3 linked regions of the Homo sapiens genome follow. The protein of the gene in region 1 interacts with the protein of each later gene in a pairwise test. Each region holds a gene or a part of one and is shown in the gene's direction. Other genes may lie near its edges. The genes, in order: OSTF1, CUEDC1 and SOCS7.

The links.
Region 2: the proteins of OSTF1 (region 1) and CUEDC1 interact in a two-hybrid assay, tested with the Homo sapiens proteins (one large-scale study listed by BioGRID).
Region 3: the proteins of OSTF1 (region 1) and SOCS7 interact in a two-hybrid assay, tested with the Homo sapiens proteins (one large-scale study listed by BioGRID).

The regions. Positions count from the first base shown.
Region 1 is NC_000009.12:75,143,982-75,147,634, forward strand, and holds the end of OSTF1 (osteoclast-stimulating factor 1), read left to right. Parts: intron 1-2,701; coding exon 2,702-2,760; 3' UTR 2,761-3,284; downstream 3,285-3,653.
Region 2 is NC_000017.11:57,945,315-57,948,967, reverse strand, and holds part of CUEDC1 (CUE domain-containing protein 1), read left to right. Parts: intron 1-2,075; exon of another isoform or gene 2,076-2,796; intron 2,797-3,653.
Region 3 is NC_000017.11:38,393,206-38,396,858, forward strand, and holds part of SOCS7 (suppressor of cytokine signaling 7), read left to right. Parts: intron 1-2,103; coding exon 2,104-2,239; intron 2,240-2,642; coding exon 2,643-2,763; 3' UTR 2,764-2,793; intron 2,794-3,653. UniProt on the Homo sapiens protein: Substrate-recognition component of a cullin-5-RING E3 ubiquitin-protein ligase complex (ECS complex, also named CRL5 complex), which mediates the ubiquitination and subsequent proteasomal degradation of target proteins, such as DAB1 and IRS1.

The DNA.
Region 1 (3,653 bases):
AGAATAAAATAAAGAGCAGAAGTAACCATCCAAGGACACAGAATATGGGCAAAACTTAGGATAGTGGAGTAGAAGGGGACAGAGTTTTCCTATTTGTCTCTCAGGCTTTAGCTTAGAAAGCTACATTTTACCAAGTTGACATGAAGTCCTGAAGGTCCTGGGTGTGTGTTGGGGGAGAACAAAATATATTCCTCCCACTTCTTGTGAACTCCTCTTGAGGAGAGTGGAGAAGAATAGAGTCAACCTGGAGACTTCCAGTAGCTTGAAGGCTGGTGTGAAGTCAGTGAAACATGGCCAGGTGTGGCGGCTCACACCTGTAATCCCAGCACTTTGGGAGGCAGGGAGGATTGCTTGCATCTGGGAGTTCAAGACTAGCCTGGACAACATAGTGAGATGACGTCTTTACAAAAAAAATTAAAAACTAGCTGAGTGTGGTGCTGCATGCCTGTAGTCTTAGCTACTTGGGAGGCTGAGGTGGGAGGATCACTTGAGTCCAGAAAGTCAAGGCTGCAGTGAGCCATGATTGTACCACTGCACTGCAGCCTGGGTGACAGAATGAGATCCAGAAAAGAGACTTGGCCTCTGTTCTGCTTTATCTTTCCTTCTCTCTCTTGCAAGATAAATCGGCTTCCACCTCCCTTGTACTGATCATCCCTTCTTCTTTTCTTTTTCTCAATAATCATTTTCCAAAACATGTAAACATGAAAACTTTTTTTTTTAAAAGAGCATTAGCATACCTAAAAAATAATTCCTTAATATTCCTTAATATCATCAAATATCTTGTCCTTGTCCAAACTTCCATTTTCTCATACATCTTTGTTTTTACTTATTTATTTACTTATGGTTTATTTAAGTCAGGATTCACATAAGGTCAGTTTGTGATTGGTAGATATGTCTCTTTATTTATTTTTTAAGCAATAGTTCCTTTCCCTCTCTTCTTCCCCCTTTTTAACCTTGCAATTTATTTATTAAAGAAACTGGGTCAACTCACTTGAATTTCCCATTGTGGACATTGCTAACTGCATTCCCATGGTGTTATTTGTCATGTTCCTCTGTCCTTTATGTTTTTGTCAATTAGTGTTAGATTTAGAGGTTTGATCCAATTTAGGTTCATTCTATCAATCAATCAATCATGAATCAATCATGTATCTGCCTGCCTATCTATCTATCTATCTATCTACCTATCTATCTATCTAATCTATCTATCGGTTTGATCTAATTTAGGTTCTATCCATCTACTTACCTACCTACCTACTTACCTACCTACCTAGCTATGTATCAAATCTAGCTAGCTAGCCAGAGGTTTGATCCAATTTAGGTTCAATCTATCCATCTCTTCACCTACCTACCTATCTACCTACCTACCTAATCATGTATCTTTCTTGGTAGTAGAAGGAATAATAAATCATATAGAATATTGTGTTCTTTTATCAGGGGCACATGATACCTGGTTGTCACTCTTCCTGTGATGTGACATCCATTGATGATCGTTGCCTAGATCTGTTACTTCACTAAACGGCACAAAATGATGATATTCTAATTAAATCACTTCTTTTTGAGTTATTAGCTGGAACATTCTATTAGGAAAAGTTTTCCCTCATCAATTGTTTTGTTACGCAGAGGAACAGTTAATGTAGCAAGGGCAGGATAAATGCTTGATTTTTGACCTTTATTTAAGAGGTTTTAAAATAATAAGCTGGTCTCTGTCATCCTCCAAAGGGTGACAGATGAGTTCTTTTTGGTGTGCCTTGAAATATTTAATGTGCTTTAATCCATTCCAATTAGTAGCTTTATCAATAGCCCATCTTTGGCTAGTGGAGGCCTCTTTAAGTTGAATCTCAGACCCTTTCACGTGATGCTGTCTTTGTTAGGATGCTTGCTTTATGACATGACTAGGGTTCTAGGTCCATCCCTTACACTTCCTGCCCCATACTTGGAACCGGTCATATGTATAATAAGCTTCAGAGATGTGATACTTAGAGATCATGAAGATCTGGGTGCTGTGACATATATTTATTGAACTTCAACAATGTGCTTGTGTTTGCATTCTGTTTTTCCCACTAAAATTATACTTGGGCTAATCTGTTGCTATAGGAATTTGACTAGACAGTTGAAGGGGTGACTGTGAAAGATCAGATGTCTTCCTTTTGAGTCCTGTTCAAGTTTGCTTGAACATTTGATGGGGTCCAGCTCTATTTTAAAACTTTTCCCCCCCATTTCAGCCTTTTGCTTTATTGTCGGTGTTTTCTACATTGAAATGGAAGCTTCTTTGTTTTCATTCTTTCTTTTCCTTTTTCCCCTTCGGTAGTTAACGTCCTACCTAGTGACTTTGCCTTTAGGCAAGACCTCAGGCTGTCACTGGGAGAGGAGGTTGGAAGCTCAGTTGTCAGAGTGGAGTGCTGCTGGTGGTGTATCATGTTGGTCATGGTGCCTGTGGCTAGGCCTTTCTGTTGGAAATGGATGCATGGCACCTAGGACCAAAACTTCTGCATGACTGTGGAACGCATCATCAGCCTCTGTGGCAACAGAAACTTAATGGTTAGGCTGAAAAGCAAAAGCAGAGAAAGATCCTCAGGGAAAGTACAATCCCTGGGTCAGATGGAAGATTCTATTCTAATTTAAGAGCTTTGAAAATGAAAAAATAAAATCTGAGCAGTTTATAATTTCCCTATTTTGCTTTTTTCCCTCCTCTTTCTTTCAGATGCAGTTCGAACATTAAGCAATGCCGAGGACTATCTCGATGATGAAGACTCAGATTAATTCCTTTCTGGAGCTTTGAGATCTAAAACTTCTGTTGCTTTTGCCATTCCAAAACTTTGTCTTTGCCAGAAAAGTGTTGGTAACTATAAAGAAAATTATATATGAACACGGCAGTGTTGCACTGTGTTTGAGTAGAACGTGTAAATGAATTGTTCCCACCTTTGGTTTGCCAGTAAGTGACTGGATTCTTGGCACATTTATGTTCACCAAAGTAGAACAAGAAGATATTATTTCTATTTATCAAGCAAAAGGAATTTTAAGATTTTTTTTTTTCTTTAAAAACAAATTAGGATTTTTTTTTTTTTTTTTTTTTTAGTTAAAATGCTTTACCTCAATGGTTGAGATATTTTGAATGGATTTTTCAAGGGGGGGAAATGCTTATTATAATAATAAACCAAAATACTTAACAGAAAATTGTCAGCTATTCTGACAAAAATAAACATTTTGAGAGACTTTATTTCTTTTGTCCGTTTCTGTGGTATCACTCATTGTCGTTAAGTAAGTAAAGCTTTTTATATTTAGGTAAGAACTGATTTTATTTTTTAAATTATATTTTATATTTATTAGCACAGAAGAATAATGAGAGCCACATTTTAGTTCAACTTCTTGTGTTAGCTTTGATCAAAGTCAGGACAATAATCATTGAGAAGGTGCATGTCTAATAAAATAGGTAAATTTAATAATTGTGAGACTTCCAGTTTTTATCTCCAAGGTTGTATTTAGAGTGGAGAAACCCAACAACTCATTACAGTTTCGCTAAGATTTGAAAGGTTAAAAAAATTTATTTCCTTATGATAGATGCCATACTTTTCCATATGGAGTAGTCAGGAACCATGAAATTTTTTGCATTCAGTTTTTTTAATAACATTTGTTTTCTCACAGTATGGATCTAG
Region 2 (3,653 bases), on another chromosome or scaffold:
TGATGCCTTTGTGGTTTTTAACAGCTGAGAAACACTGCCACCTCTTGTAATGCCTGCAGTGAACATGGTGAAGAAGACATAAAAGTCCCTTAAGAGTCATTGCTCAGAACACAGTGATTCACTCTTGTCTCTCTGCACTTAGAACCAGAGGCAAATGAATTTAAACTACAGAGGGAGGATTCAAGTAAGGTATGAGGAAGACATTCCAGATAGGATGTGAGATGTAAGAAAAGTGACTCATAGGCACAGAGGGGAATGGCCTCCCCTGAAGGTCTTCAGAAATGGGAACAAGTTTCATTTGTCTTTGTGGTTTAAGAGGTTTCATCTGGAGACAGGAAGATGAAGTAGAGGCCCCTAGAGGTCCATGTCAGCTCGGTGATCGGAGGATAAAAGGAGCTGGAATTTTTGAGCTAGAAGATTACTTAAATTTGGCCTAACCCCTCCTTTGACTGTTGGAGTGATTGAAGAATGCCCGATAACACTGAGCAGCTCATCCATGAATGAGTGAGCCAAGGCACAAACAGAGTCTGCCCAACAGCTCTGGGCCAGGTGACCCTGGCCCGCAATGTTCCTGGTCAGCATCACCCGGGGGTGCTCACTGGGAGGGACCTACAGCTCTCGGGGATGGAGTCCAAGCCGTGTGAGGAGAGCTCAGGAAACCTGGAAGTAGTGGAGCATTTGTCTTGGTATTGGAATACAGAAAGCATCAGCCCCCATACACACAGTGTTTCTGAGAATGGCACTCTCAGTTGGAGCTAGTGGGTTATCTCCTAGATGCACCTAGAAGAGTTTTAGGCATATATATGAGGCCCTCAGTAAACTTTGTTGGATGAATGAGTAAATAACAGATAATCCAAGACTTAATTTCTCTTTGACCATACCCTTGTTAGGCCAGTGCACTTAACCCTTCTTATTCTGTTTTGCTTAAGCTGACAGTAGGCTTTTTTTCATAATACTGCCTAGCCACAAAGAAAGCTGCCCACAAGTATGCTGGGGGCAAGGGTAAGAAGAGAAAACACAGTTTAGGATCCTTCTCAACATTTATACTTCTTTGAAGGATCATCAAGGCCTGACATTATGTTCAGTCATAATGGCTTTTGCTTTTTTTCTTTTGTATTGTTCCAAGCACAAAAGTGTTTTTATTTTTTATTATTTATTTATTTATGAGACAGGGTCTTGCTCTTTCACCCAGGCTGGAGTGCAGTGTGGTGTGATCTCAGCTCACTGCAACCTCTGCCTCCCAGTTTCAAATGATTCTTGTGTCTCAGCCTCCCGAGAAGCTGGGATTACAGACATACGCCATCACAAACAGCTAATTTTTTTGTGTTTTTAGTAAAGATGGAGTTTCACCATGTTGGCCTGGCTGGTCTCGAACTCCTGAGCTCAAGAGATCCACTCGCCTTAGCCTCCCAAAGTACTGGGATTACAGGTGTGAGCCACCGTGCCTGGCTCGAGCACAAAAGTAAAACGCTTCGTTTTTCAAATTTACGAAAAACATGTAGTATAACAGTCTCAGCCACATTACAGCAAGATGGTTACAGGGATCTCAGAAGAGAACAAAGCTTGCTCTTGGAAGATAATCTGATTAAGAGTGAACCAAATATGAACGGATGCTGGACAATGAGTTTAAAAATAATACCGGGTGGTGAACTTTAGCTCACGGGGTGAACTGAAATAGACTTGTGCAAATAAGAGAGAAGTAGCAGCAGCAAACACGACGGCAAGAACTTTTGCTTCCTCCTCTAATCCCATGATTCCCTATTCATTAAGAAAGTATTTGATGTTAGGAGGGCACTGCAAAGCTTTTTTTTTTTTTTTTTCTCCTGGTGACCAGCAAGCTGGATTTGGAGCTCTGTTAAGGGGAAGCCTCTCTGTGGTCATGTAGGGTGATCAGGCTCCTGAAATGATTTCACTTTGCTCTGGTCTGAGATTAGTTTCGGTTTCAGGCTGTACCCACAGCTGGGAGAGAGCTAGTGAGCTCCAGGGAGGGTCAGCTGGGGGAGTTTCACCATTGGCTGTGTCAGCCAATGGCAAGGTGTGTGAACAGGGAACTCCTGTGTTGAGCAGAGAGAGGAAGAAGATGCGTCCGAGATGGAGTTGGGGAAGGCAGCACTTGCGTGTTTGTGTGTCCAGAGACCGGGCTGGTGATGATGAGCAGGAGGGAGCGTATGAAGATATCAGATGTGCAAAGGACAAAACCCCCACCCAATTACAGGACCACTGAGCCTCGAGCTAGGGAAGTCTTAAAACAGATTGCCTGGGCCGGGTGGATTTTCCCTGAGCAGGTGTACACCTGAAAGGAAAGCAAGTGTGAGCATGCCACAGAGTCAACATACATCTTGTACTGGCATTCTTAAGATCAGCCTCTACGGTGCAGCATTTTCTTGCATATGAGTTTCCTTTAAAAAAAAAAAAGTCAAATTAAAGTTTGAGAACTGATAGTTGCGAACTTGCAGACCTTTGCATGTTGGTGGATCCTTTGAGAACTTCAAGCTGTCATTTTTCCTGAGACGGCTTGAGGCCAGTCTGGTTGGTTCACAGGACATCATTACCCTAGAAAATCAGCAGTTTTCCTCCCCTGACTGGTTCTGGGTGAGGCATACACAGATGTTTCCTTCCCTCAGCAGTACTAGAGCATCATTACATTTTATTTCTCAAAGTTATAAATTCATTTTATTTTGAAAAGAGAGAATCACTGAATTTTACAGCTGGAAAGGATTCTGAAGACTGCTTGCTTGGTTGGCTCCTGGAGGAATCTGAGGTTGTGGGTCGTTAAGTGCTTTGAAAAGACCAATGGTATGTAATTAAGAATACTGAATCAGAATGCCTGTGCTTCATCCCAGCCTCTGCTAGTTGCTGCTGTGTTCTTGGGGCAAGTTACTCAATCTCTCTGAGTCTTAGTTTCCTGATCCATACAGTGGGAGTAATAATATTACCAAATGGTTTTTTGGTGTTTTTTTTTTATTTTTTATTTTTGAGGTGGAGTCTTGCTCTGTCACCCACAGCCTCCACCCGCCCGGGTTCAAGTAATTCTCCTGTCTCAGCCTCCTGAGTAGCTGGGATTACAGGCGCCCTCCATTACCCCATGCCCAGCTAATTTTTGTATTTTTAGTAGAGACAGTGTTTCACCATGTTGGCCAGGCTGGTCTTGAACTCCTGACCTCAACTGATCCGCCCACCTCAGCCTCCCAAAGTGCTGGGATTATAGGTATGAGCCACCACGCCCGGCCAAAATATTACATAATGATTGTTAATTACTACCAAATACTTATTAAGCCCCTAGCACAATGTTTTGCATATTGTAAGTCCTCATTAAATGTTAGCTGCTGCTGTTATTGTTATTATTTTCATTTTGTGAAATCACACAGCTACTTAGTGGTAAAGCCAGGGCTACAATGTTAAATTCTTTTTATTCCAATTCTTTTCAGCATGGCCATAAGGAGATTTCACCACATTCTGGAAATATGGGAAAACCTTTACAAAAATGTTTATGCGGATGTCTTTGCATGAATGTTCATAATACAGCTAGAAGAAATGGGCTTAACCTATTTATTAGATATAGTTAGACTTTGGGCATGGGGGCATATGTCTACCAAAGAATTTGTTTCCACAAATATTATTTACTAGTGTTTAAAGGTTTCCTGAATGCTAGA
Region 3 (3,653 bases), on another chromosome or scaffold:
TGTTCAGTAACAATAAAATAATGTATTTTGATTTTTTTTTTCCCCTGGAAAGTATGTTGTCAGTGATCATGGAAAGGCCTTGGGATGCGGTGTACATGCTTTCATTTGTTTTGTTTTCATGCCTTCAAATAAAATTTTAAAACTATCTGGGCCGGGCATGGTGGCTCATGCCTATAATCCCAGCACTTTGGGAGGCTGAGGCAGGTGGATCACCTGAGGTCAGGAGTTCGAAACTAGACTAGCCAACATGGTGAAACCCCGTCTCTACTAAAAATACAAATATTAGCTGGGTGTGGTGGCGGGCGCCTGTAATCCCAGCTACTCGAGAGGCTAAGGCAGGAGAATCGCTTGAACCTAGGAGTTGGAGCTTGCAGTGAGTCAAAATCGCGCCACTGCACTCCAGCCTGGGTGACAAGAGCAAGACTCTGTCTTAAAAAAACAAACAAACACTTTGGGAGGCTGAGGTGGGCGGATCACAAGGTCAGGAGATCAAGACCATCCTGGTTAACACAGTGAAACCCCGTCCCTACTGAAAATACAAAAAATTAGCCCGGCGTGGTGGTGGGTGCCTGTAATCCCAGCTACTCGGGAGGCTGAGGCAGGAGAATGGCATGAACCCGGGAGGCAGAGCTTGTAGTGAGCCGAGATCGCGCCACTGCACCCCAGCCTGGGCGACAGAGCAAGACTCCGCCTCAAAAAACAAACAAACAAACAAAAAAACTATTTGAACTTAAACCCCAATAATAGTAGATATTTTATTTTCCAATCAGTTGTGTCTATAGAATGTCTTTTGATATGACAATGGCTGAGAATTCTTTGACAGGTTTTGCAACTCAGATTTTCTCAAAGAATCTTGTTTACCTTCCATAGCCCCTTTGTTTATTGAAAGCAAAATATTCTTAGTTCCCTTGAATCCCAGTGTTCCTGCCATTCTGGATGTCTCCATGCTGTGGCGTGGGGCCCTTTTTGGGGTGGGATTCCCCAGCACAGAGCCTGCTAATACATAAGGGTGTGGTACTCCCATTGAGTCTATTTGGCATCAATCAGCAGGCGGGTTTGCACTGAGCGGTACTAATCCTAGCTTGCCCAAGCGATTGTAGTTGTTCTTTTAAAAGCATCATCTTTTTTTGGTCTCCTGGCCTAAAATTTCAGAAGCAGGAACTGGGGGTTATGGGGGTTGGGTATAAAAGGTAGCTAAACCTGATTATCCTGGCTTGAAATAATGGCAGGAATAATAGGCTTGTTAACTTTGATCCTAGCTGTTACCTTCTACTTACCAGCCTCCCTGCTGAACCAGCCTCTCTGCTGAACCAGCCTCTGCTGAACCAATTGGAATTTGGTGGGGACTCCTCTGAACGGCTTTTCTGGGTCCTCACCTTCAGGATACTGCTAGATGTGCCCAACAAGTATCTCCCATTCCCAGCAGGGATACTTTTGATTCTTGGCCTTCCCGAGAGCCTCAGGCCTGGGATTGGCCACTTGGGTCCAAGCAGTGTCTCTAGTTTGGCATAATTGGGCTACTCCGAGGAGCAGGACTCTCAGCTGTTATGAGTGATGCTAGGAGCCAGGCACAGTGGCTCACGCCTGTAATCCTAGCACTTTGGGAGGCTGAGGCGAGTGGATTGCTTGAGCCCAGGAGTTCGAGACTAGCCTGGGCAACATGGGGAAACCCCGTCTCTACTAAAAATACAAAAATTATCTGGGTACGATGGCATGCATCTGTGGTCCCAGCTACTCAGGAGGCTGAGGCGGGAGGATTGCTTGAGTCTGGGAGGTCAAGGCTGCAGTGAGCTGAGACTGGGCCACTGCACTCCAGCCTGGGTGACAGAACGAGACCCTGTCTCAAAAAACAAAACAAAAGACACACAAAAAAGTGATGCTAGGGAGGCCTTTGGCAGAGAATGGATTTCCTTAATTGTGAATGTGGTGGTGGTGCTTCTGGAAATGGAAATCAACAGCACTTTGTGGAGGGGCTTTTGCACAGAATACATATATGAACCATAAAGAAGTCCCATTTCCCCTCCCTAGGTTCTCTTCATACAAGAAATGGTAGTTAGCTCCATTGTTTCCTCTGAATACTTTCCTTTGTTTTCTTTCTTGAAGGACTGCCACCAACTCCTGTCCAGCTGCTCTATCCAGTGTCCCGATTCAGCAATGTCAAATCCCTCCAGCACCTTTGCAGATTCCGGATACGACAGCTCGTCAGGATAGATCACATCCCAGATCTCCCACTGCCTAAGTACAATGGGGTTGTCAGGTTTGGGACAGGAATGAGTAAGGGGGTTGTGGGGAGGTAACAATGTCAGTGAGGCCTGCAAGCTACCTTCACAGGCAGAGTCTGGCATAAAATATTTGCAGATGTCATTCTTACACATTTCCTGTGTCTTAGCACCTAACTCTAGAACTGTCATATTGCAGCCAGAGGGAGGAAGGTGTGTGTGTCAGCCTTCCTTCTGCAGTCTCTAGGAAGAATAGAGTAGAAGTGGTAAGAGTAAGGAAGACAGAACTATAATAACTGAGAAAATGGGGATTGTGTTAGGTCTCAACCATGTAGGGAGTGAAGAAGAGTTGAACAAAGGAGTTACTTCTTTTATATTTTGTATAAAAACCTTTTGTGTATATCCGTCATTTGTTTTTCACAGACCTCTGATCTCTTATATCCGAAAGTTCTACTACTATGATCCTCAGGAAGAGGTATACCTGTCTCTAAAGGAAGCGCAGCTCATTTCCAAACAGAAGCAAGAGGTGGAACCCTCCACGTAGCGAGGGGCTCCCTGCTGGTCACCACCAAGGGTATGAGCTCTCTGCCTCACTGCCCAGCCACATTTCTTCCTGGGCAGTCATCATCATGCATTGAGCCTTGGGCCCCCTCCCCACAACTCCCAACATGGATAGCCCCGATCCAGGCATTTGCCCATAGAATGACAAGATCTGACCGTGGAGTCCTCAAGGGGCACACACCCCATTTGGGAGAAAAGCAGACAGACGAGAAAGACAAGAAAGTAGATTGCCAGGAAACGTGCAAGCTAATCACTGAATGTGAGCAAGGAGGGGGACACCCAAGTGTAGCTAAGAGTGCGGCCTCTGGCAAGGAGAGGGTAATTGAAAAAAATAAGAAGAAGAGTGCAGCCTCCTCTCATACAGACTTGGGCTGATCTCCCTGATACTGCACAAATGGCATATAAAGCAGGAAGCTAAAGGGAAAGGAAACTTCATCAAAGAGAATGCAAACATGCCTTTAATTGCAACAGGCATGCACTTCAGTGAGACTCCACCATGTCCCACAGCTTGGAATATGGGGATGAGGAAAAACAGCCCACTCTTCTATTTAGCGTTCCATTTGGGCCATTACAAAGTAAATTGTTGAAACTAAGGAATTCATTTATCTACGAGGCTCTTCTCCCATCATTACACAGTTCTACCCATTTATTTTCCCATAAAACATCTTGCAATACTGGTTTGTGCAGATGAATTCCAATTAGTCTTTTAAATTGCACTAAAGTGAACATTGTGGGGCCAAGTTCCTGAGTAGGGAACACAATTGCCAGGGAGCCATGACTTTGGTGGTGGTGGTGACAAGCAAGATTGACTGCCAGTGTGCAGTGACTGCTTTCTTCTGGTGTGGATCCTGGAGTAGATGTACAGTCTCATCA